Linked DNA regions of Homo sapiens: regions 1 and 3 are each linked to region 2. The links come from fine-mapping of genetic effects on gene expression. A gene starts in region 2. Each other region holds a variant in brackets. All regions are shown on one strand. Distances are from middle to middle. Region 1 has its middle 24 kb from the start of BHLHE41. Region 2 holds the start of SSPN (sarcospan). Region 3 holds the start of BHLHE41 (basic helix-loop-helix family member e41).

Evidence for each region. PIP is the estimated chance that this variant, and not a neighbour inherited with it, causes the effect.
Region 1: its variant is fine-mapped to the expression of SSPN in whole blood (INTERVAL, PIP above 0.99).
Region 3: its variant is fine-mapped to the expression of SSPN in whole blood (TOPMed, PIP above 0.99).

What each region holds. Positions count from the first base shown.
Region 1 is chr12:26,096,988-26,105,467 of GRCh38, forward strand. No RefSeq gene overlaps it. Among named protein-coding and RNA genes, the nearest start is that of BHLHE41, 24 kb to the right of the region's middle. RefSeq lists a silencer at 139-208. The variant C/T (reference allele first, on the strand shown) is at 3,786.
Region 2 is chr12:26,190,473-26,198,943 of GRCh38, forward strand. It overlaps SSPN (sarcospan), which reads left to right and starts at 5,101. Exons shown (of 3, transcript NM_005086.5): 1 at 5,101-5,479. The coding sequence starts at 5,201.
Region 3 is chr12:26,117,150-26,125,629 of GRCh38, forward strand. BHLHE41 (basic helix-loop-helix family member e41) reads right to left here and starts at 7,888. Exons shown (of 5, transcript NM_030762.3): 1 at 7,569-7,888; 2 at 7,370-7,433; 3 at 6,923-7,030; 4 at 6,481-6,592; 5 at 2,881-6,019. The coding sequence starts at 7,630. The coding sequence ends at 4,917. It also overlaps a transcript of SSPN not described here. The variant G/T (reference allele first, on the strand shown) is at 4,713.

The sequences.
Region 1 (8,480 bases), 93 kb before region 2:
AGAAAATGATGAGAAAATTAAACTTGAAGCAATGACAGAAAAACATTAAACGACTATTTCTGCAGGGAGTCAGCAAAAAGTGTTCTAACTATTCATTCTGAAAGAATAATATACTATAACTTTCTCAATTACCTCTATCATTTAAACAAAGCACATTAATTTACTTCCCATTCACTTGGCCCTGGGGGTAGGGAGAGTCCCTGGTTATTTCAAGAATCCAATGTCTGCAGTAACAACGAGTCTTACACTAGGGGGCAGCAGCTACCGTCCAGCCACCTTCCAGGGCTCCAAAGCTGCGCCTTAGGTGAATCCTTACTTGAAGAGATCCTGAAAAAATGAAGGAAAACACATTACTAAAGAAGTTTTCTTTTTATCTTTATATTAATTTGCTTTGCTGCAGTGTTTCTGAAAGAGAATGGGCCGCTCGTTCTGAAGATTTAAGGTGTTTCTTTGCCAATAAAGAAATAGCAATTGAACATATTTTATCTGCTCACACTCCATGGCTCATTTCTGAAGTGACAAAGTAACATGGTCTGAAAGATCTTTTTAAACTTAGTTTCTCTGTACAGCCTAGTAGTAATTGGTAATTTTTATCTACTATGGATTTGATCAAAAGGAACAACTCATTGCACTGAGAACACTAAGCTATCGAGTGATACCAAGTGTTAATTTTGTAATTCATGAAGAGTACAGATTTTAGAGGGAAACTGCTGAGTCAAGGGATTACTCAGTCTTTACAAATCCACACTCACTCAGCTTGGCTTGAATTATTAAAGAATCAGGTTGTCCTAACTATGAACAAGAATCCAGAAGTCCAGACTTTATTTAAAAAAAAAAAAACCAGAATGTGTGAAGATGGGTATATTTGCAAAGATGTGGAGAGTTATTCAGTTTGTGCTAAAATAAGAATAGCATTGTCCTACAACTGAGTTGGCTCAAATATAGTTTGCAATATAGCATTCATTTGTTCCAACACAATTTTCCAAATACAAATTTAATGAAAATGTAGATTGAAAGTCCCATTAAATAACATGCTAAGAAACCACTATTGTGAATTCCAAATTCTCTGGCAATATTTCATAAAGAAGTTCTTTTTATCCCAGCTTACTATAAACCTTCAGGGTGGTGGTTCTCAATTGAGACAGTTCCATCTACTAGATAGTATTTGAAATTTTGCAGGGGTGTTTTTGGTGGTCTCAGTGATTACAGGAACTACTTCCTTTTAAGATGGTGGAAAAACGGTAGCAAGAAAACAAACAAAGAAGTTTACCAATGGGCCAAGAACCTGAACAGACATTTCTCAAAAGATGACACACAAATGGCCAATAAGTTCATGAAAAAAATGCTCAACAGCACTCATCATTAGGAAAATGCAAATTAAAGCCACAATGAGATACTACATCACATACAAAAGATAACACATGTTAGCAAGGATGTGGAGAAAAGGGAACCCTTTACACTGTTAGTGAGAATGTAAATTAGTACAGCCATTATGGAAAATGGTATGGGGGTCCTCATAAAACTAAAAATAGAACTACCATATGATCAAGCAATCCCACCTCTGGGTATGTATTCAAAAGTGTTGAAATCAACATGCAAAAGAGATATCTGCATTCCCATGTTCACTGCAGCATTATTCACAAGAATGTGAATGCCAAACTACGGAAGCAACCTAAGCGTTCATCGACAGATGAGTGGATAAAGAAACGTGGTACATAGACACAGGGAAATACTATTCAGCCTTAAAAAAGAAGGAAATTCTGCCATTTGTGACAACATGAATGAACATGGAGGACATTATACTAAGTGAGATAAGCCAGGCACAGAAAGGCAAATACCACATGATCTCACTGACATGTAGAATCTAAAAAAGTCGAACTCATACAAGTAAAGTGGGGGCTACCAAAGGCTAAGGGAGAAGGAGTGAGAGGGTATGGGGAGATGTTGGTCAAAGGGCACAAAGTTTCAGTTAGACAGAAGTAATAATCTTTCGAGATCTATTGCATATCAGGGTGATATGGTTAATAATAACGTATATTTCAAAGTAGCTAAGAGAATAAATTTAGAATATCTCCCAACAAAAAATGGTAAGTGAGGTAATTGATATGTTAATTAGCCTGTTTTAATCATTCCACATTGTATACCTATATCAAAACATCACATTGTACCCCATAAATGTATAAAATTATCATTTGTCAATTAAAATAATGTTAATTTTTAAAAATATGCGTGAGAGAGCCAGGGATGTTAAACATATTACAGAGCATAGGTCAACCCTTGACAATGAAAAATTATTGTCCTATCTCTCACAATGTTTAATGCCCTATCTGTTTTACATATAAGCATAAATTGTTTTTAGCATGGTTTTTTTTCCTCTCTTTTTGTTTTTAGAGACAAGATCTCATGCCCAGGCTGGAGTGCAGTGGCAAGATCATGGCACACTGCAGCCTTGATCTCCTGGGCTTAAGCAATCTCCCACCTCAGCCTCCCAAAGTGCTGGAATTACAGATGCAGGCCACCATTCACAGCCCTAGCATCATTTTAATAAAATTGAGTGTTCCAAGAATACAACTACCAGTTGAGTTGAGGAGAGATTATGCTTTATTTAACTCAGAACTTTACCCAGGTTTGTTAACCATCTTTGAAGTTCATTTCACAGGAGCATCTTAACTTCTGGAACTGAGTCACCAATAGAATAAACTGATAACAATCTGTGTTTGTAGCTCTTGATTCAAGGTGGTTCTAAGTATACATTTAAATATACTTTTTATTCTTTATTCAAAATGTCAAATATGAAAAGAAGAGTCAACTTGAAGGTAATATATTGGCATCAATATATTAACAGTATAAGCACCTGACTACTTCATTACATTTTGTAGCATAGCTACCATCTGTGCCTTTCCATACTTAAATATATATATATTTATATATTATTATATATAATTATATATATAATTTCTTTTATTTCTCCTTTATATCAAAGTTAAGGCATTACATTATTTTAATAATATTATTGATATATGATAGTTATATTTTTTAAAATTAATGTGCATTACAGACTATATTTTCTATAAATTTCATTTTAAGCTAGTAAAGGAGCATAAGAAAATATTTGTTATAAAAGGGGACCTTTAGTTCTCATAAGCTTGAGAACCAAGATTCTAAGGGTCTCTCTTTCATTTGTGAATTCCTCACTATTCCTCCCTCTTTCCTATCCATCCTACCACTTAAAAGAAGGAAATGGTCAGTAATAAGAAATTATTAGTAGCTAGGCCCATGAAGTAAGTTTTATTCTGATTAATAATGTTCTTTAAAAGACAGTTGTAAGCTGAGCATTCCTATGTGATGTGGATATAAATATAGGATTGTCAAAAGTTCATATTAACTCATTCATTATTTCATTTGTTAAGTATTACTATGTACCTGTGAGGTGTAAGGCATTTTGCTATTAAATTGATCGTGTCTGAAAAGCACCAAAATCATTGCTACACTGAAGAAAATCTCTCTCTGGGGGAACAAATGGATATTACATTAGGCAACAAAACAATTGACTGAGTGAAATGTTCAACTAGATATTTTGGAAGCATCTAATTTGTAACTCGTATTGGTCCCGAAAGCCAATCAGAGTAGATATGAAAGGGAAAAAATGCTAAAACTTTACAAAACAATTTTCATATTGGGGGAAAATACAATAAAGGAAATGGTGAGACTCTTTCTGACCCAAATATATATTTTTTAGAATCAAGATTACATCACTGTTAAATTAGTATAGCTGTAAAAGGTCT[C/T]TTGCATAACTATTTGCAATGAAATTCTTCATAGTAAATTTAGTAACAGAAAGAAACGGTCTTCTGCCATTATGAGAAACAAATTAATGTTATTTCCCCTGTCCCCAGCTTTTGAAATAACAGTAGGCAAAATAGCCTAGTGAAGGGTGGCTGTATGACTAGGAGCATGTTGCTTAACCTCTGAGCACATAGGTTTCTTTATATGATAACATTTACCTCATAAATTAAATGAATTAGCAGTTGTTATATGCTTAAAACACTGCTCAGCATATTAGAAACACAAAGCAAATAATAGCCATGATCATATCTCTTTTCCATATCAGAAGCGTGAAAACTGTTCATGGAAACAATTGCCTAATGTTGGAACGGCGGGCTTGACTTGACCAGACAGTCATATGCTTTGCTCAGTGCTTTTGTGCTCCAAATGCATGAGATACTAACCGGTCCTAGTGCAATTAAGAGTGTTTGACAGCCGGGCAATCCTAGCATGTTCCTAACTAAGCGATAATTGAAGATCTGTGTAGATTTTAGGTACAGGTTGTTACCCAGCAACAGATTGAAGTTCCGGAAGAAATTCTGAATTATCTCATTAATAAAGCAACTTCCTGATAGACAGCTATTGACTCTGACCACAGCGAACCCAAGAACTCATGATCCTCTAACCCAGAAAAAAAATATGCAGGTGAGCACTGATGAGGTGGCAAGATGCCAAAAAAACTGGTTTTACAACCTATCGGGTAAGTGAGCAAGTGGTGGCTAAAGGTTGGTCACATTATCTGGAAAGAGCAGGAAGATCAGGTCGACTGTGTTTTGCAGAGGTTATTAGCATAGCATGGGAATGCAGCTCTGCAGCCAAAGAAAGAACCCTGATGCCACTGGGGCATGCTGACCCATGATGCCAAATGGAAACTGCACCTGTCTGCCTTCCTTCTAGTCTCTCCATAGTGTATTGCATGACCACTGAACTCCCCCAAAAAGACATGCAGGAGGTCTTAGATTATGTCATTTAATGCTTGTAACTGTCCTACAGAGATGCTACTCTCATTAAAATCATCCTCTTTACAGATGACGAAACATAAATTTTGAGAAGTAAGTTGCTTAATGTCACAAAGCTGATGAGTGAGACTCATGAGCGAAGCTGTCTCATTTCTGATTTCATGCTGTCGATGAGATTGCCCTCTAGGAACCAATTACAACTAATGTTTGTTTAGGACTTTAACATTCAACGAGCTCAGAACCCCAGCATGCTGTAAGGTGGACCTTATCTTATCACCATCCCCATTCTATAGATAAGGAAACAGACAAAAAGATGTATAAGTGGTTTTCCCATGTTTATGCAATTAGGTGGTAGAGCCAGGATTTGAACCCCTGGTCTTTTGAATCTAAGCAGAATTTACAAGAGGAACACTCAAGCAGAATGGGGTGAGTTATGCTGAGCACAAAGCTTAAGAGAGCAGAGTTCTGTGGTCAGGACCTTAGCTGTTTTTTGCCTTTGCTTTGTCTGCCCAGACAATTATCTGATGATAACTTGCAATTTGTACATTCTGGATACATTACCTTTCTCTAGATGACATGTAGGATTTGTATAACCTAGATATGTCTTCTCTGTTGAAGATGAATATTGGAGATAGCACAATTGGATTTAAGCAATATCCTTAAATTAACATGTCAAGTGTACTTAGCTGCACTTGGAAATCCGTCCAGGTTTAATAAGCAAATACTACTGGTCCAAAGAGGAGATCACAGGATGAGAATCTTCCATCCTTTATGTTATAGACTGAATGTTTGTGCCCCCTACCCCCAAATTCATATATTGAAATCAAATCCCCAATGTGATGGTATTTGGACGTGGGTCCTTTGGGAGCTAATAAGGTCATAAGGGTAGAACCCTCATGAATGGGATTCGTGCTCTGATAAGAAGCCCCAGAGAGCTAGTGAACCCTCTTATTGCCATATGAGGATACAGTGAGAAGTCAGCTGTCTGCAACTGGAAGAGGGCCTTCACGAAGAACCCCAGCCAGCTGACACTCTCATTTTGGACTTCCAAACTCTGGAACTGTGAAAAATAAGTATTCGTTGTTTAAGCCATCCAGTTTATGGTATTTCGCTATAGCCGCCAGAGCTGAATAAAATATTCCCGGAGGACAGACATCTCTGCATTTTGGGGAGAATGTTATTTGCAGTTTTATTCCACTATTTTTATCTAATAGCCTGTTGCTTATTATGGATTTCAGCAGGTCTGATGATGAGAGGGTGGCTGAATGTCTAGGAAATTGTGCAGTGTAAGAAAGGAAATAACTCGTATAGATCTCTGCCAAAGTTTATTCCGCTGTTGGTCCTGAGACACTGGGTTGCCTAGTATCATAACACTGGCCAGGCATCACGAGGAAGCTATGAGCACTCGGTTGATGTCTGCAGTCACACGGAGGCCTCAGTTACTAAAGAAAGAGGAGTGTTACTGAGATCAGTTACTTCACACCCATTTTACCACATCTCCTCACCCACAGGGTACTGAATGTATCTATCTAGGAGACTGTATTTTCAGTTATAAAACATGATAAAATGTTTCATCAATTCATCCCTTTGGGCTCACTTTTAAATTTTGTTTAAGTTTTTCTGTTAATTTACTATAAATGTTTAATAAATTAAGAGTATATTATTCTCATGAGCTAACACTTCCTCCAAACTATTTTCAACCAATGAATTAAAGGATAATGGAATGCTTTTATCGGGTACATAATAAATGGTCAATGCCACCAAATGTTACCAATTTCCAATATTAGAGACATAAAAAATGTAGAAAGGCTGTTCATTTTATGAGGGGATGGTTGAGTGAATTAATTTTAAAAATATTTACTGGATGCTAGACACGGTGGTAGGTACTGGGGGTACTTAAATTAATAATTAGCCAGGACCCAATGCCCACCCTACATCAATTTCAAGAACAGGAACAATAAATGTAAATACATCAGAAGTATTCAACTTGGGGACTTTCAGGAGAATACAAAAATAGAAATAAGGAGACATTCTTTTCATCCTATTCTGGTTCAATTACTTTGTTCTCTGTACAAGCTGGAGAGCACATATTCTCCCATCATGAGAGAAAGGGTGGCGGTCATTCAACCCAAACCAATCACATGTGCTTTGGGCAGAAACTGTCAATATTAAGGCAAATCACATCCAGTTTATCACAGACTCAGTTAAAATAGAAGGAAAATATTCCCTGAAATATGGTCTCTGATGCTTGGTAACAGTGCTTTGGAGCTTGACAGATGTAGAGACAGCCAATCACCTTTACATCTGCCAAAATATCTATTCTCCAAAGCCAGAAAGATAAAACGCCTAAAACCACAATGTGAAGAGTTGAATATTGAAAATTCCATATGTTTTGCAGGTTGATGCTAAATCCTATGAGAAAAACCAGCACATCGGGGCTCTTGTAACCAACTTTCAGGAAAGGAATCCTAATCTCCGAGAGGCAGGTATAAGAAAGATTACTGTTTATAAAGGAGTATGGCCATGCTGACCTTCAAAGTGGGCAGAGCCACAGCAAGCCACCTCATCAGGTCTGATAACCATGTCCTGGAAATGGGTGATTTGGAGATGGCTGGTAGGGCCAACTATATAAGAGTTGGCCTTATTGGTGAAGTAGCCAAACAAATGAGGATGCTTCAAAACTACCATTCGAGTGAACGGAGTTGGGCAGTGGGGGACAGGATTTAGGGCTGAGCACCTAATTTCTCAATCAGATAAAGGGCAAGGTGGTTCTCCTCCTCCCAGCTTGGGTAGGAAGTGCAATCAGTCCGATTTCACAACAGAGAAGGCAAATCCTCCTATGCTGATGTCTTCTCCTAAAATCTATTCCTTGCTCACTCTATCATAGGCACACTGGCCTCCTGACTGTCCCTTGGTTGTGCTGTGCATGCTCCTAGCAAGGGCCTTTGCACTTGCTGTTCTCTGTGCCTGGCACACTCTTCCCCCTGATTTCCTCATGGCCCCCTTTCTCACCTCCTTCAAGACTTTCCTACTATCTCAGTGAGGCCTAGTGTATTCATTTTTTATTGCAGCCATAACAATCACAACTTACTGGCTTAGTATATATAGGGTGAATTCCCATATACACTTCATGTGGCATAAGACAATACAGATTCATTTTCTTATAATTCTGTAGGTCAGAGAGTCAAAGTGAGTCATATCAAACTAAAATCAAGATGATTCTAAAATCGAAGAGGACAGTCTGTGTTCCCTTCTAAGGGCTCTAGGGGAGGCTCCCTTGTAGGACGGAGGTCCCTGTTTCCTTGCTGTCAGCTGAAGGCTGCTCCTGGCTTCTGGAGACTTCCTGCATTCCTTAGTGCTGGCCCCCGGCCTCCACCTTCAAAGCCAGATATGTGGAGTTCTTCTTCCTTCTTTAAATGTTATGAATGGCATTTATTTAGTAACACTGACATTGGTATTAAAATGGGACTACACATTTAAAAAAATCACTGTATTATAAAAATGTCATAAATTTCTCTGGACTCTAAAATTGAAATAAAATTCATAAACACATATCCTCATTTCTCTAGAGATGGATGCGTCTTATGTAGGTAGAAAGAAAATGAAATGGCTAATATGTACCCAGTTTTAAAGGGTATCTAAGGAAAGGTATATTAAGGACACTCAGTTTTTAATTTGGGCTATAATTTTTTTTTGTTT
Region 2 (8,471 bases):
TTTAAGTCTTTCAGCTGAGAGTCGAGAGATAACAGGAAGAAACAAACCATCCCTGCTGTGTGCTGTTTGAATATTTGACCCACAGAAACCATGAAATAATAATTACTGTTTCAAATCACTGAATGTTGGGGTGATTTGTTATTGTAGCAATAGATAATTAAAACAGAGGATCTAGAATGGCAGTAGAGGCATTAGGAGAGTTTGGTGAGATGAATTTATAAAAAACCTACTTGTTCTATTATTAATTACTGAGGGACATCCAGTGACTCCCTGTATTTCTCTTTTTATTACACTTTTAAAAATTGAGATGTCATTGTATACAATAACATGCACAGATCATAAGTGTTGTTCAATGACTTTTGACAACTAAGACCCATATGATCACCAAAGATACAGAAGACTTACTTCCATCACCCAGAAAGTCACCTCTTACTCCTTTCGAGACAATTCTCTCATCCCAACTCCTCAATCACTTTTTAAATTACCATAGATTCATTTTGCCTTCTAAAACTTTTATACAAATGGAATTATGCAGTATGTATTATTTTGTGTCTGGTTTCTTTCACTCAGCACACTGTTAATGAGATTTATCCAAGTCATTGCCTGCATCAATAGTTCACCCCTTTTCTTATTAGCAAGTGGTATTCCACTGTATGGATATGCCACAATTTGTTTATCCATTCTTCTCCTGTATTTCTCAATTAAAATAAATTTAGTTATTTCTACAGTATCATATGCAGTGGAAAAATCAAAATTACATGTAGAAAAATTTGGTATTATAAAAAGCACCTTAAAAATAGGTGAAATGCATGATTAAATGATTGAAATTTATCACCTCTATAGCCCTCCAGAGAATGAAAAAGTTAAGCCAGGTATGGTGGCATGTGCCTATAGTCCTAGCTGCTCAGGAAGCTGAGCTGGGAGGTTTGTTTGAGCACAGGTTTGAGTCCAGCCTGTGCAACATAGTGAGACCCCATCTCCAGGGAAGAAAGAGAGAGAGAGAGAATGAGAAAGTCATAAGCCCTTTGTTGACCATAAAGATTGCATTGTCCATATGATATTTAACTTGAAAATACAAACTTGCAAGCAAAAATTATAAATGGGTCAATTCTGCTGAGAAAAAAATTAAGCCCAAAGGCACATTTAGAATTAATGACATAGGAATAAAGAAAATAAAAAAAATAGGAGTTGCTTTAATTTGTTCTACACACACACACACACACACACACACACACACACACACACAAATACACACACAGAGGTCAGCAATATCCCTAGAGTCATTTTAGGTATGGCGGCCAGCAAGGCATATGGGGGCAGTGGTCCTGCATATCACAAATGAATTCCCAATTGTTTTCTGCAGAGTATTTGATACTTCTTTAAATCAAATCTAATTGAACATTTCAGATAGATTTAGTTACATATGAAAAAGACTTGATATAGACCTTGGAAATGTAATAATTTTTTTCTGAAATCCTTTTTTGTTCTTGGGGAATGTAAGATCATGTGTTTGAGAATATGTTGGTTTAAAGATTATTTCTAGTTGGGTTTCCTAAGACATTTTGTTAATCACACTAGTTTTAAAGAGTTATCATCTTCCCCGTTCTGAACTTCTGATGCATAAATACTTCAAAATAATGTTAAGTTTGAGATAGTCTGCAAAGATAGAGATACTGGCTTGATTTTGTTTTCTCCCCCAAGAGGATCAAAATAATCTAAACCATATATTAACTACTGTCCTGCAATTTCTAATTTACAATCTTTGTCAGTTTTGAATTATGGAAGCAGCCAAGAGTATCCAAAAACATTTTGTTTCTACTGCGCCTTTTTTCCCGGTAATATAAATATCTGAAGAGGTTATTGCTTAACCTATAAAATAGTGACATCATAATTTATGAATACTGAAAAACCCAGTTCATTTCTGTTAAACTCTATGATGAGCTAGACGTGATGATTTTTTCTCAGTGGAAAGGACATGTAAAAGGAAGAGTTTTCTTTGTTGTATCCTTAATGACAGTCTTATCTATTTTAGCCTTGATTACTCTCTATCACTATTTGACAGTAACTTTTCTTTGTTTCTACTTTCAAATATCAATTAAGTGAAAATGACATCCTCGTCACTATCATCTTATGTTATTACCAAAGACCAGGCCTCCTCAAACACAGATTCAACCATGCTGTTGGGAAGCTGAGCAGGTGTGAGTTTCCCTAGACCACCAAAGGCTGAAAATTGTAGTCTGCAGTTGTAATCAGACTAGAAGAATTTCAGTGCGTCTGGGATGTTGTTCATTTACATTGCTTTCATTTGTAATGTGTCTCAGTGAGGCAATCAAAAGTAAGCTTTTTTAAAAAGTATATATGTACAACTGTTTTACAACTGTAAGCCACTAGTCTGAAACTCAGAAGACAAATGTATAGCAATATCCTACTATCTTGTTTGACTATTTAAACTTACATATAATTTAAGGTTTTGAGGAAAAGGCTAAAAATGTTTCACTTTTAATTGCATGACAATTTGGCAGTATGGTCAGCAAATAGAACTTGTATCTAGTTATAAACTAGTACTAATAGGAATAATGGTCTCCACTGACTATTAAATATATACTATGGTGATGAATCAAGATATTTTTGTAAAGTACTCATCTCTAGGTCTAAGTTTGTAATTCACTGTATTATAGATACTATGCTACCCATGATAATTAAATTGTTTAAAATCACAATTTAAACAGTCTAGCCACTTGTTTGCCTATAGGCAATATACATACAGGAAGTAATTAATAAAGCAGTTAATCCTTTAGACCATTGGCTTTGGAGTTCACATCTGGTTCCACTTACCCCCATTCATAAGTAGGCTAGTGACTTTAATCCAATTACTTAATAATTCTGATACTCAAATTTTTTCATCTTTAAAAGTGGAAACTATAATTATAAGGTGGTTATAAGGGGTGACAATAAAATATGTAAAGCACCTGTCATGTGTTTGTTACAGAATACTCAGTAATAGGTAGCTATATTGTTAATAACAATACATACTTGATTCCAGGTAGTCAATTGACTTTCTATAAATATTTACCATATTTCCATAGGAAAACCAAGCATTTTGTTGTTTTGTCATTTGGGTTCTTCTCAGTCAGGCCCAAGTCAGGTGGGTGTCCTGGTATAACGCCAGTTTTTATTTGTCTGTTCACAATAGAAAGCCCTTGTGGTGTGATGGCCCCAAAGCTGACCATAAACTTGCCTCAGCCACTCTGTTTTTCTGGTAAGAGTGAGTGCTATTTCTACTGCCTCTGCATGGAACTGGGATGTGTGGTTTAGATTCTGTTTTCTAAGCAAATGTATTTGTTCCCTGAACCATTATTTTTCTCACTGGTCCAGATGGAAGGCATAAGGAGAACACCTAAGTTCATAAAATAAGTAAGGGTGAAGTACATACTTTTTGTCTTCAAAGTTACTTTTGTGGGGACTTGGCAGTTTACAAAAAGAGCTGATGATGATTAGTTTCTAATTCTAAAGCAAACAGCAGGGAATTGGATTTTCTTTAAATTTTCCAATAGCAAACAAGCTAGGAGTAGCCTTTATCCTAACATCTTGGCAACATCACTTATTTTTGAATATAGCTTTCTGAATGTTACAATGACCATACCAAAGGAGATATAAATACCCCCAAAGTGATGGGATCATTTTTTAGTGGTTTCGCTGAAATTTGCTCTAAGTGCTACTGAGTAGAGGTATGCGGGAATAAGAATAATCAGTTTTATTGATTTCTTCTGTGACTCTGGGCCAGGACCAAGTCTATTTTGAACATCTTTATATCCTAGCACATTGTAGGTGCTTTAAAAATAACTCTTAAATATTGACTGAGTAAAAGCGTCTATCTCTAAGATGGTCAATCCAATCCCCCTAAGCACTGTTGTGGAGATGAGTGAAGACTAACTAGGAGTCTTGCTCTGTCGCCCAGGCTGGAGTGCAGTGCCATGATCACGGCTCACTACAACCTCTGCCTCCCAGGTTCAAGCGATTCTCCTGCCTCAGCCTCCCGAGTAGCTGAGACTACAGGTGCGTGCCACCACGCCTGTCTAATTTTTGTAGTTTTAGTGGAGACGGGGTTTCACCATGTTGGCCAGGCTAGTCTTGAACTCCTGACCTTGTGATCCGCCCACCTCGGCCTCCCAAAGTGTTGGGATTACAGGCGTGAGCCAACAGAGCTTTTAAAAACAAATACACGTGAGAGGCCGGGTGCATGGTGGCTCACGCCTGTAATTCCAGCACTTTGGGAAGCTGAAGCAGCAGGATCCCTTGAAGCCAGGAGTTCAAGACCAGTTTGGACAACATAATGAGATCCCATCTCTATGAAAAAAATTTTAAAAAATTAGCCAGATGTGGTGGTGATTGCCTGTAGTCCCAGCCACTTGGAGACTGAGGAGAGAGAAGCTGTTGAGTCCAGGAGTCTGAGGCTGCAGTGAGCTAGGATGGTGACAATGCACTCCAGCCTGGGCAACACAGTGAGCCCCTGTTTGGAAAATAATAATAATAATTAATAACATATGTGAAAGAGAGTTCACAATTAGTCCAATATCTTTAGAAAGATTCAAAAACACCTAAATGCGAAAAATGCCTTTATTCATTTGTCAGCTGGATTACAGAAAGTAGGAAGAAAAGAGCCTGTGCCTCTGTAGGAAAGTAACAACGACTTAACTTCTGGAAATGACTTCGCAGCTTAGAGCCCAGCAGTGCCTATTTTGGATTAAACTGTGTATTAATTAAGCTCAAACGATTTCAACATTCATCACCTTGCATTGCACTTCACAGAAAGCAAAACCAAAACAATCCTGGAGTTTTGAGTGAGGAAAACAGACGCCCCGCACTCGCACACGCGCGCACTCGCAGCCTGTCTGAAGTGCAGAGGTTCAGGCGGCCAAGGGACCCGCGCCGGTTTCCGCGGGCGACCTGCAAATCCTGCCCGGGGCCCGGCAGGCGCTGCGTCCCGGCGCGTTGGCAGTTGGCGACCCCCCTCGAATCCCCCCTCTGCTGCGGGCTCCCCGTGGCCTTTGGAGGCTCGGTGAGTCGGCTCCAAATGTTTTCCATATTTGTTCAGCCTCCATAATTCGAATACCAGGGCAGGCCGAGCCAGCCGTGCGCCGCGCTCCAGGGCCCAGGGCGCCGCACACGCACCCACCCACCCACCCAGCCTCGCAGCGCCATGGGCAAGAACAAGCAGCCACGCGGCCAGCAGAGGCAGGGGGGCCCGCCGGCCGCGGACGCCGCTGGGCCCGACGACATGGAGCCGAAGAAGGGCACGGGGGCCCCCAAGGAGTGCGGGGAGGAGGAGCCCCGGACCTGCTGCGGCTGCCGGTTCCCGCTGCTGCTCGCCCTGCTGCAGCTGGCCCTGGGCATCGCCGTGACCGTGGTGGGCTTCCTCATGGCGAGCATCAGCTCCTCCCTGCTAGTCAGGGACACTCCATTTTGGGCTGGGATCATTGTAAGCATCAAGTCTGTTTTGCCTAAGCGCGTTTGCCAAACAGGAATGCGAAGTCGCATGGTCGAGTTGAGACTAACCCAGCTGCATGTGCCCTTCCCCGGGTTCACTCTTCTAACTCGCGCTCTGCTCGGTGACTGATGCGTGGGGCACTGGGTTTTCCCGGGCGGGGCAGGGCTGGACGCGATAGGGCTCCTGCCCCTCTCCTGCTCGCGGCTCCCAGCGCCTCCACGGGGCCTGACTCTGACGCTCTGGAGCTGGGGAGTTCATTTCAAAAGCTGCTTATTTTGGTCAGACTGAACAGCCTCAATAACAACAGCGGATTCATTCGGGCTTTTTCCTTATCCTGTTACCCAGACCCCACCCCTGTCCTTAAACAAGTGGCAAAAAGTGAATTAAGTTCATCTAGTGAAAGCAGGAGAGGAGAAAGCCTGTACTTGGAGTTGCCACATTGAGTAGCATTCATTTTATGTTTTAAACTGAGGCTCCATTAGTAAGTTTCCTGAAATGATGGGCTAAGGCAGGAAATGCGAATACAGCAAGCACAGCCTTAATCCACTGGAGTCTAAAGTGGGATAAACCCAGGGCGCTGGCCATGGCAGAAGTATATTTGGGACTCCACCGATGGATGTACTGTTCTAAGTTGAACAGTACTCAGCTGTTGTGAGTGTTGAAACATGTAGCATACTTGGCTTGATTAAATGAATTCTTTAATGTAAAACGGGTGCCACTTACTGAATACCTACTGTGTGCTCGCCCTGCTAGAGGCCTGACACATATTATTTCTAATCCCCACATCGTCCTGATGGGATCGTTTTAATCATTCTCACTTCTCAAATGAGGGAACCCAGGCCAGACTCACCCAGGGTCATGAGTGGGTAAAGCATTCAGCCATGCTGATTCCTCTTTATGCTAGACTATATCTGCGTTTTCCTCATTGAACCACACTGCCACCACATTTGGTTTGTAACTTTAATATTATGTTATATTACAGTGTCTTGTAGCATATTAAACTCTTTCACATGCATTATTTCATTTGAGCCACGAAACAACACTTTGAAGTGGGAACTGTTATTCCTTTTGGATGTGAGGAAATAGGCTAAGAGAAGTTAGATGACATTCTCAAGCCCAGAGATTGAATGTGGTCGAATCAAGAGAGACTAGAAATGACATTTTTGACTCCTTGTCTCATATTGCATCCTTACTGCTATTACTGACCACAGGAACTGTAACTCACAAAACGTCCCTCAAAATAATTTTGTATCAGGGACAGACATTAGAGAGACCTGATATATATGCATCGATGGAGGTATTTCCTAATTAAGATTATTTGAATACACAATTTTTGCATAGTAATTTAAAACTTTAATTTTTGTACTAAGAATTCCCATGAAATTACCATGATTGGAGTTTTCTAAATCAAGTGATTTTAAAAATAGCTTTTCAGTAAGATATACTGGGTATTTCAGGCACCTCAATGACGATCCACATACCCAGGGGGAAAATATGTCTGTCCTTTAATGCCAGGGGAATTAAAACAAACAAAGAATGAAGCTCTTTCATTCAGTGTTTTTAAATATCATTTGCAAATGTGTTCCCCATCCTTCCTTTATTGCAGCTTCAAAAGCTCAGCACCAAAGAGGCAAATTAGATGGAGAAAAAACTTATTTTAGGGTTTAAGGCATGAACATAAAAACCATGCAACTCAGAAATTTTATGAACTAAAGCTCCTGTGGGAGATGATGTTCCTAATTGCCCTGGAAGCTCCCTGGGTGTTGCACAAAGGGCATTATATACAGCCAGGTCTCTGCTCTTTCTGGTTTTCTTTTTTATCATCTAGGATTCATTTGAAGTTTGCTCTCAGTACATAGCCCTGATGAAATCTGTCATCTTAGATTTTCTTTCAACTGAGAATCTATGTAGAGGAGAGCAGCTAGTAGAGATGTCCTGAGACTAGTGAGGAGGGTCTCTGAGGAGCCAGGCCAGGAACAACTCTCATCCTAGCAGGGCCAGAATTTGGGCATGTGTCACTGTCTCACACAGACACCATGCTCTGCTTGTCCTCACTACTCTGTCTGTGGTTGGTCACAGGGCACTCTTCCAAGCTTTCAGGGAAGGGAAAAGATAACGAGGCAGATGGCAAAGTGCAGATGTGTACACACCACACCTGGTGTTGAGCACCAGCTCAGCCACTGTGTGCTGAATAACTTTGAGTTTTGGGGGGGGGTTTTTGGAGACAGAGACTTGCTCTGTCGCCCAGGCTAGAATGCAGTGGCACGATTTTGGTTCACTGCAACCTCCCCCTCCCAGGTTCAAGACGTTCTCGTGCCTCAGCCTCCTAAGTAGCTGGAATTACAGGCGTGCACCGCCACACCTAACTTGTGTGCCAAATAACTTGTATGCTAACTTGTGTGCCGAATAACTTTGGACAAGTTACTTAACTTCTCTAGGTTTCCATTTCTTTACTAACAAAATCAGAATGATAATAATTCCTACCTTTTCGGGTTGCCCTGAGGATGAAATAAATTAATACATGTAAAGCACTTAAAATAGTGCCAACGAATGGCATGATTCAATGAGTTAGCTTTACTTATTAGCTGCTTGGGAAGCAGTCACAGGCAGTGTCACTCTTCAGAGGAAAGGTGGCTTTATTTCATCTCTAGACTTGCAAAACTATCATTTTTGACTCGCTACATTTCCAAGACTAGTTTGAACCCTGAAGAAAATATCAGTTTTGCCGTCTCACCTTTCTCTGTTCTCAGCCAAGTTACTCTTTAGCAATCACAGTGGTATTTGATTGGTCCAGTACTTTCTGAATCTTTCTGGAGGTTTATAAAAATGAACTTGGAGGAGAGTGGCCTCCCCAAGGTCATTTTTCCTTTGGGATATGCAGTGATTCAGGGCTGGTATATCCTGCCGGGTTATATCAGTTTTCCCTGTTCAGGAGCCCCACCAAACCGAAGCAATCCAGGCCCATCCCTGGGGCTGAGGCTGA
Region 3 (8,480 bases), 73 kb before region 2:
CAAATTTGTTTATTTTGTGGTTAGTTGTGGGCTAAAACCATTAGCAAGTTGCTTTTATTTTTATGTAATAAAATGATGGCAAAATATATAACGTATTTGAAGGCATTTGCATAAGTAATCTTGAAGGCATTTGCATAAGAAGCATCGCTGAGAATCTGGAAGTTAAAGGAAATAAAAAAGCTGAGAATCTATCTGGAAGTTAAAGGAAATAAAAAAGGTCACAGATTCTACAAATTCACACAACTTACTTGTAGAACAAACCCTCAGGTCCTCTGTCAGAGCCTATTTACTCTAATTTTAGCACATTTCAAATGGGCGTGGTAGTGTTTAAATGGTTTCCCAGCCCACAGTAAGTCAGAGGTAGCAAATTAGATAAGAGATGGAGGAAGCACTCTGAGGCTTCAAGAAGTGACAGCTGACAGGCTAGCTGTGCGTAAAGAGACTGAAAAACCCTATAAAAAGCAGGTAGAACTCAAAAAAAAATTTGGTGCAGGTGCAATTACTCCCAGATGTCATGCATAGTGCAAAAATGATGTTTACAATGATGACCCTGAATTATTGAGAAAGGTTAAGTATGTCCAGGTTAAGACATTTAGAGGATATGTGTAATACATTTTAGTATGCTTTCCACTAAAAATTCAAAAATGAAAAACAGCACTGGCATTTGAACATAGAAGTTTTAGTTTTCTAAACCACTGACTGTCCCTCCTGTCGGACAAACTAGGCATCACTGAATTTAGAATTTTAAAATATCAACATTTAAAAAAGGTGGTTTTATATTTGTTTGGAGTTTTCAATATGGAATCTCTGAACGAGCATAAGAAACCCGATTTTAAGACAAACGTACAACTCCTAGAATAGCATATTTTTAAAGTACATGCTGCGCATGTTTTCTAGTATAAATCCCATCTTAATCACACAAAATATGTGATAATTTCCCACGTCAATCCCTTACTTAAATTCTTCTATGAAAAACTAGAACTTCCATGGGACTTTAGCATGCACTGTAAATCCATCTTGAACTTGTTTAAAATAACAGTGAGAACAATGGGTGGGTCTAAATATATTGAGCTGAGGGTCCAATAGGTTAAGAATTTTTGTTTAATGAAAAATATCAGGTTGCTACCTGAAGTAAAATACCATGATCACAACAGTACAGCCAGCTTTTGGCAATATAATGGTCTTAAGTCATTCATGAGAGCTCTGTTCATTTCTAGCTAATGTAAAAGTCCTTCGTGTGTTTGCCCAGCCATGTCTCTCCAGAGGCTCCACTGGCAATCACTTTCCATGGAAAGGTTAAGAATTGACCTGTGACATAGAAAGGAGTAGGCTGAGCCTCCTTTTACATAACTTTTGAACAAATCTCGGGTGGTGGGCAATAACCAAAGTCATCGCCTGGATGGCCAGAAACAGGGAACTAAATGAAAAATAGTTTCACAATGATAGGAACTAAAACTCCAAATTTTACATAGCTATTAAAGTGTTGTTTCTAGTGCCTTGAAAACGTGCTTAAGGTTAGCTCTTTGGAGGGGAGGGAAGGGCCATTTTTTTTCAATTCAATATAAAGTTTGCTAAGAAATGTGTTATATAAAATTAATCTTTTTAAAGATTATGTAAAATATATGTATGTAAAATTAAATTTTTATGAGTATAATACTATACTCATAAAAACATTGACTCAAGATTCATATTTGCCTGAAGTTGGAAAATCATTTTAGCTGAAATTTCACCACTACAAGTATAGAAGCCTCTTTAGTGAATTATGACTTCAGCCTTTTAATTCATTAAAATAAATCAATGACTAAAATAAAGTTTTTTCAGATTTTCAGATACAATATAGACAATATTATTTTTGCATTTCTGTTCTAACTTTATCTTACCATGTTACCATATGGGCACTTGGACTAAATAACTGACTTGTAAAATCTGGCCCAACTCTGAAGATTTTTTTATCTCATTATACCAAAATTATACACATGCTAAAAACACTGTATTATCCTCTGATTCACTTTTAATCCTTTTTGGTTATGAAACTAATATTACTACAGTAGTGGCATCAAAATATAGCTCAAAATATTTGAAATGCTGTTTTTCCCATTATTCTGATTCAGATAATTTTTCTAAAGTTCAATAAATTAACAATGCTGAAAAATCCTACATAGTTTTCTAGTGTTGATTTCAATTTCCTTTGTTCTATGGTTTGTTACGAAGCTTCATGGGGGCTGCTCAATCAAGTTCAGCTTACTTGGTCCAAGATACTGCAATGGGAAGTAGTTGAGTGACTGAGGGATATAATAGAGCTGGCCACTAGTGCTAGTGCTGACTCTAGGTAGCTCTGTGACCTTGGGAAGATACTTAATATCTCTGGGCTTCCTTTCTTTTTTTCCTATCACGAAATGCAGGGGACTGGATGAGCTGTGGCTCCTTCTGGCTTCATACTGTTATGACTTGCAGTTCAGTTGCCATAAAGTCAGCAGAGGGAGCACTTTTTCTACATCTTATACAATCTGACTCTCATTTAAACATTTTCAAAAATCAAGGGGTTTGTGAAGAACATTCCTGAAACTAAAAGCTGACAATCCTTCACTGTTTGTATCATATCACAGATTTGAATGGAAATTTGAGAAAAGTCTAGAAATTATTTCTGATCCTGGAATTCCATGATAAAGTCCCATGACAGAATTATTTTATAAAAAGAAGCCAAAACACTCTCATATTAAGCACCCCTTTGTGATCATCTATTTATACAAGACCCAGTGAAAGAGGAACACCTGACCATACTAGAGAGGCTATGTGATGTCACAGACGAAAACTGAAAAACTTGTCAATCATTAAAACAATAGAAAATTGGGTCTAACATAAACAAACCACACAAGTTAATTGGTAGGTTTTTCTTTTGCACTTTTCATTAAGATACATTGGGAACGAGCAGGTAGACAAAGCCAGAGCCTGGAGGCTTGCAAGAGATTGGAAATGTGTGACATCAAGCCAATGACAAAAAAAAGCTGTAAATCTGAGAACTGTAGTGATTTGTATCCCTATAGTTATAGATATCTTAAAACTAATTGAGCATCCATTATGTCTTTTTTAATTATTAGACAATATCATATCGTATATTAAAGTTTTTATTCCTTAGTAAGAATTTTTAAATCACAAAATAGTGTGGCAATATTTAGGTAATAGAATTTATGGAGTGCTGAAAATACTAGAATATAAAGGTAATTTCTAGTTTATCGTCACATACTAAACTTTTCTAAACCAGCTGGTTTCTCACAGACAGTATTTATTTTTTTAAAATAATTTAAGACAGCATAAGCTTGTACCAAGCATAAGCATTGTAACAAAAGTGCAACTTTTCAGCAAATCCTCCCCAAAAGATATTTTAACTCAAAATATCATTAGCACATATTTTCTCCCTACAAAAATAGCATGTCAGACATCATTAATTGGATGTATTAACAACTATGTACATAAGAGCCACCTTGTAGGCTAAGAGTTTAACGTTGTTTAAACACAGCGTTTGAGGCAAACAGTAGCAACAGCAGCAGCAAATGCACCAAACTGACGAAAAGACCCAGATATTTTCCTCACTCATAGTCAGACTGTTGTGTCTCACCCCTTACATAACATCCAAGTGAGATTTCTCACAGTGCTACCTTGGCAACAAACTAAAAATATCTAGACAAGGTCTTGGTTTAAGCCTTATTAAAAAAGCTTTCTTTGTGATTATCTGGTATCTGGTTTGGTCTCCAGAAAATACATAGACTTGGAGATAGGAAGGCCTCACAGGACTTCATTCTATATCTTTACAGCATTTGCAATCAAAACTGGCCAGTTAAATGCTTTCGTTCACTTTTGAATTTTAACAGAATATAGGATATATCAGTTTGGACTTGTTTTTTGTTGTTGTTGTTTTTTGTTTTGTTTTGAAGTTCAGTGCACTTTTTTTTACAGTAAGATTACAAAAATTTAGGAACATGATGGATTAATGAGAGTGGGAATAGATGCACTTGAGATGTGTATGTATAGATACCTATCTATGGATAAATAGAAATCTGTACAGATAGATATCTATCTATATATGGACTTAGAAGAAATTAAGATGAGTCCATTAATTCATGGTCAATTTCTCAATAAAGTGTTAGCAAATGTACTAGGAATGATTCTGGCCTTCTCATCCATCTCCTTCCCTGACTTAGTTCTGACGATGGCCCAGCTCCGTGTTTCTTTAACGAGTGCAAGTTACTAAGAGATACCATTTAAACCACTTCAGAATAGGTTGCAACGTGAGAAACTGCATCCTCACTTCTTTGAAAAATATATGCCTTTTAGAAAGCTGAACATTAGAAAATACTGAAGAGTAAATTCAATTCTAAAAGAGCCTCAATCTGTTTGTGGAACGCCTCCTAAAACAGGCAGGGCAGCTTTGAGAACTAGCTCTACATAACAACTACCTGCTGTTCCATGTCAACTCCAAAGACGTCAAAGGTGTTAACATCTTTCCCCTACCCCGGGGTTCACCTAGCTCAGCCACAGAACAGACCCTTCTTACTTCCTCTCGAATTAGGTTCCAATTTTAAGAGATAATGGAACATGGCCTAAAAGGGGGCAAAATTTATTTGGGGGATTAAAAAAAAGAGCCAGTGTCTTTCGCATAGGATCTTTTACAGCTGGTGGGGGGAAGAAAGGGATGTTAGTGTGTGGAGGGTGGG[G/T]TGGTGCGGGATGAGCAAAACAGGAACTCCGAATGTACACATAACACCTGTTTTGTTGTTCTTGTTTATGCCTGTCGTGCATCTATTACACTTCCTCCCTTAAAGACCTTAAGGGTATTTTAACTTCTCACTCTGCTTGAACCTCCTTAAGGGTATTTTAACTTCTCACTCTGCTTGAACCTCCGTCCTTCGGGACGCAAGGATTCAGGGAGCTTCCTTTCCTGGCTGCGAGGGATCTTCCTGAGCAGAGCTCTCCGGGTTCCCCGGCTCGCGGGGCCCGGCGAAGGGCAGGTGGGTGCGGCCGTGCGGGTGCTGGGGGTGCGGCGCCCCAAGGGGCGCCACCTCGTGCGGCAGGAGGGTCGCGGCGGCGGCGCCCGCCTTCTCGGGAGGGGGCGACAACACCGAGGACAGGCAGGGGAACGCGGCGGCGGCGGCGGCAGCGGCGGCGGCGGCTGCCGCGGCTGCCGCCGGGGCGGGGATGCCGGGGTATAGCAGCGGGAACGGGGCGGCAGCCGCCGCCGGGTACAGATACTTCTCCAGGCCGCTCTTGTCCAGGAAGGGCTGCACGTAGGCGGCAGCTGCAGAAGGCGAGAGGAAGCAGAAGGGCAGGCAGAAGGGGGCCGCGGCGGCCGCGGGCTGCGGGAAGGGCGCGCCTCCGCCTCCGCCGAACGCCACCAGCGAGCTGAGCAGGGCGGCGTCGGGTCTCAGCAGCGCGGCCGCGGCGGCAGGGTCGGGCCCCAGAAGCGCGGCTGCCGCCGCCGCCGCGCCGCCCCCCGGGCCGCCGCCGCTGCCGCCGCCGCGGGAATCCAGCTTCATCCTCTTGGGCGCCGGCGAGTCCTCCCCGGGAGGCTCCTGCTTGATGGTGACGCGGCTCGCCCCCGCGCCTTTGCCTTTCTCGCGGTCCGGCCGGGCCTCGGCTTCGCCGCCGTAGCCGCTGTCGGTGTCCGTGTCGTTCTCGGCGGCGAGCTCGGCGCTGGGCTGAGTCCGCTGGATGACGGGCACGCAGTAGGCGAGGGGCTCCAGCTTCTGCCCCGCGCGCTCCAGGCAGGGGGCGGCCGCGGACCCGGCGGCCGAGGGAGCGCCGGTGCCTTTGCTCAGAGGGACCTGTTGAGTCAACAGCTGCGGGGTGGGCAAGAACTGGGTGGCCACGGCGTGCAAGTGGTTGATCAGCTGGACACACCGCGGCTCCCTGGGTGTCCAGCTCTCAAACCGGGAGAGGTATTGCAAGACTTCTTTGGCGCATGTTTGAAATCCCGAGTGGAACGCATCCAAGTCGGACTGAATGGGCGATTTCAGAGATCGCTCCCCTAGGATGAGGAAGGGATGGGGGTGGGGGACGGAGGAGTGGAGGCAAGAAGAAACATACCCACGTTAAAACATCTGCTTATCACGTGGGCCCTGCATCGACTAAAGTGATCTCGGTTTTTCCCCAGTATTCAAGTGATATAATCCACCAGTTGACGAGAGAAGCGGGGTGGCGGAGGTGCGGAGCGGGGAGAGGGCGCTCTCCTCCCAGCTGAAAACCAAAGTGGAGCGGGTGCAACCGCCACTTTAAATCCTGATTCCTCCGAGTTCTGCTGAAAGCCTCTAGGATGCTTCGGGAAATGGGCTCGTTCCAATGAAGGGAAAGTATAAGCAATTTAACAAATGAGAGGGAACCCATGAGCCCACGGAAAGAGATGGGGTGCGGGTGAGGGAGTCCTGACACTGCTCCCCTGTGGGCTGCCCCGCTTCATCAGGGTAGGCTGGCCTCCCTGAACTGACTTACCATTCTGTAAAGCAATTATCTTCTGATGCTGTTGCTCGGTTAAGGCGGTTAAAGCTTTTAAGTGTTTCAAAGTTAATTCCAAGACTACAGCTTTCTCCAGATGTCCCAGAGTCTGCAGTGGTGCAAAAAAGAAACGGGCACTTGGTTACTTAAAAACACACATTTGGCTTAATTGGCTGTCCATTCAGCACAGCAATTTAAGCAAACACTTTGAAAGAAGTACTGTTCTTTTACTTCTTGAGCTTTCCACAAGACAGGTTATAAATGATTTCTTGCCTTCAGCTGGGAGCACCTACTCCAGTTTGCGGGAAACTCTGTACGGTATAGCACAAGTTTTAAGTCAGGAACTTATATTTACATTTATTCTTATATTTTCTGGGAGTCGCACCAGACTATTAACACGCCCTTGGAGAGCAGCAAAGAATGAAAATGTGCATCTTACTGTCAATTTCAGATGTTCAGGCAGTAAATCTTTCAGCTGAGCAATGCATTCATTAATTCGGTCTCTTCTTTTCTTTTCTATTAATCTGTGCGGTAATTTGTAGGTATCCTTAATATATGAGAGTCATGGAAAAGAGAAAACAGTAAGCGAAACATTCACTTATTGGATATTACCCTCGTCTGCCCCCCCCGCCCCCCCACCATAAAACATACTATGTGATAAACTACACCCAAGAAACCTCTTTCCTCTGGACTGTTCTGCAATGCAATTTAAATTCAGGTATGATGTTTAATATCCCCCTGAGAGTACCCAGCAAGCCACTTAAAATTCACAGTTGGGGAAGCTCAGGGGCTGGAATATATTTGCGGGCAGAGCTTCACTGTGAAATCAATGGCTCTAATTAACTACCCATGCAGGTTATGAGGAATATCGGGAACTTACACTTACCTTGGTGTCGTCTCGTTTCATGCTCCTTTTGGGTTTACACATATACAAAGAGGAATAGTCCAGTCTGCAAAACAGAAATCAGCATCAGGCACCCATTCGGGGAGGGGCTCTGCCCTCGCCAGCTCCATACCACTTTCTGGAGAAGAAAAAAATCAAACCAAAGCCTAGACAGATATTCGCAAGGGTGCGTGCACCTTACCCTATAAAATCTCTATGTTCCAGTAACTGTCTCTCTTGCAAATGAGGAATTCCTTCGTCCATGTTCAACTGCTGTTCGTTTCCTCTGTTTCGATTTTTGGGGCTCTGTACAATAATCTGTGGGACGGTAGGCTTGGGAGACCTTGGGGGGATCTGTGCGTCTCCAGTCTCTCTCTCGCTCTCCCTCTTCAGTGCAGTGTTGAAAGTGTGAAGCAGTTGGTCCCCCCCCTCCACCGCGCTCGCACACACACACGCACACACACGCACACTCGCGCCGGCCCCACTGCGCTGGTAGTTTGCTCTCACTCCAGGCAGTGTTTGGCCACAGGGCACGCGCGTCGCCGGCCAGACCAGCACCCAGCTCACGTGCGGAACGTACCATCCGCGGTCCAGCCCGGAGGGGGGCGGGGGAGGAGGGGCCGGGCCGGGCGGGGGCGTCGGGAGAAGGCGGCGAGAGAAGGCGAACGGCAGGAGGGGGCGGGGACACCTGATCAGGGCCACCGGAAAGGAAAAACAACTTCGGCCAAGCTATTCATCTTCCCAAAGGCGATGCAGTCGGCAGGAGGAGGGGGGAGTGGGGGTGCAGGGGTGCGGGGCAGCCTGAGCTTCCTTGGCTCCAAAATGCGACTCCCTGGGTTCGTCCGTTGTTACGGTGCAGGAATGTGAACGTGGCTTTTTGCTTTTCCACCGATTGTGCTGTTGGTTTGAACCATAGAAAGGAAGTGAAAAGAGAATTCGCGGTGGGTAAACTTGAGTCCCAAAGGAAATTTTGGAGACTTGTTTGCTCACTGATCAGTGGCCTGGAGGGACTCCTTGGCGCTGGGTGGAGAGGTTGCCTCGAGAAGAAGCAACTTGCAATCCGCTCCTTGAAGGATTTAAGATACATGAAAACGTTGTCACTGGGTCCGAATGT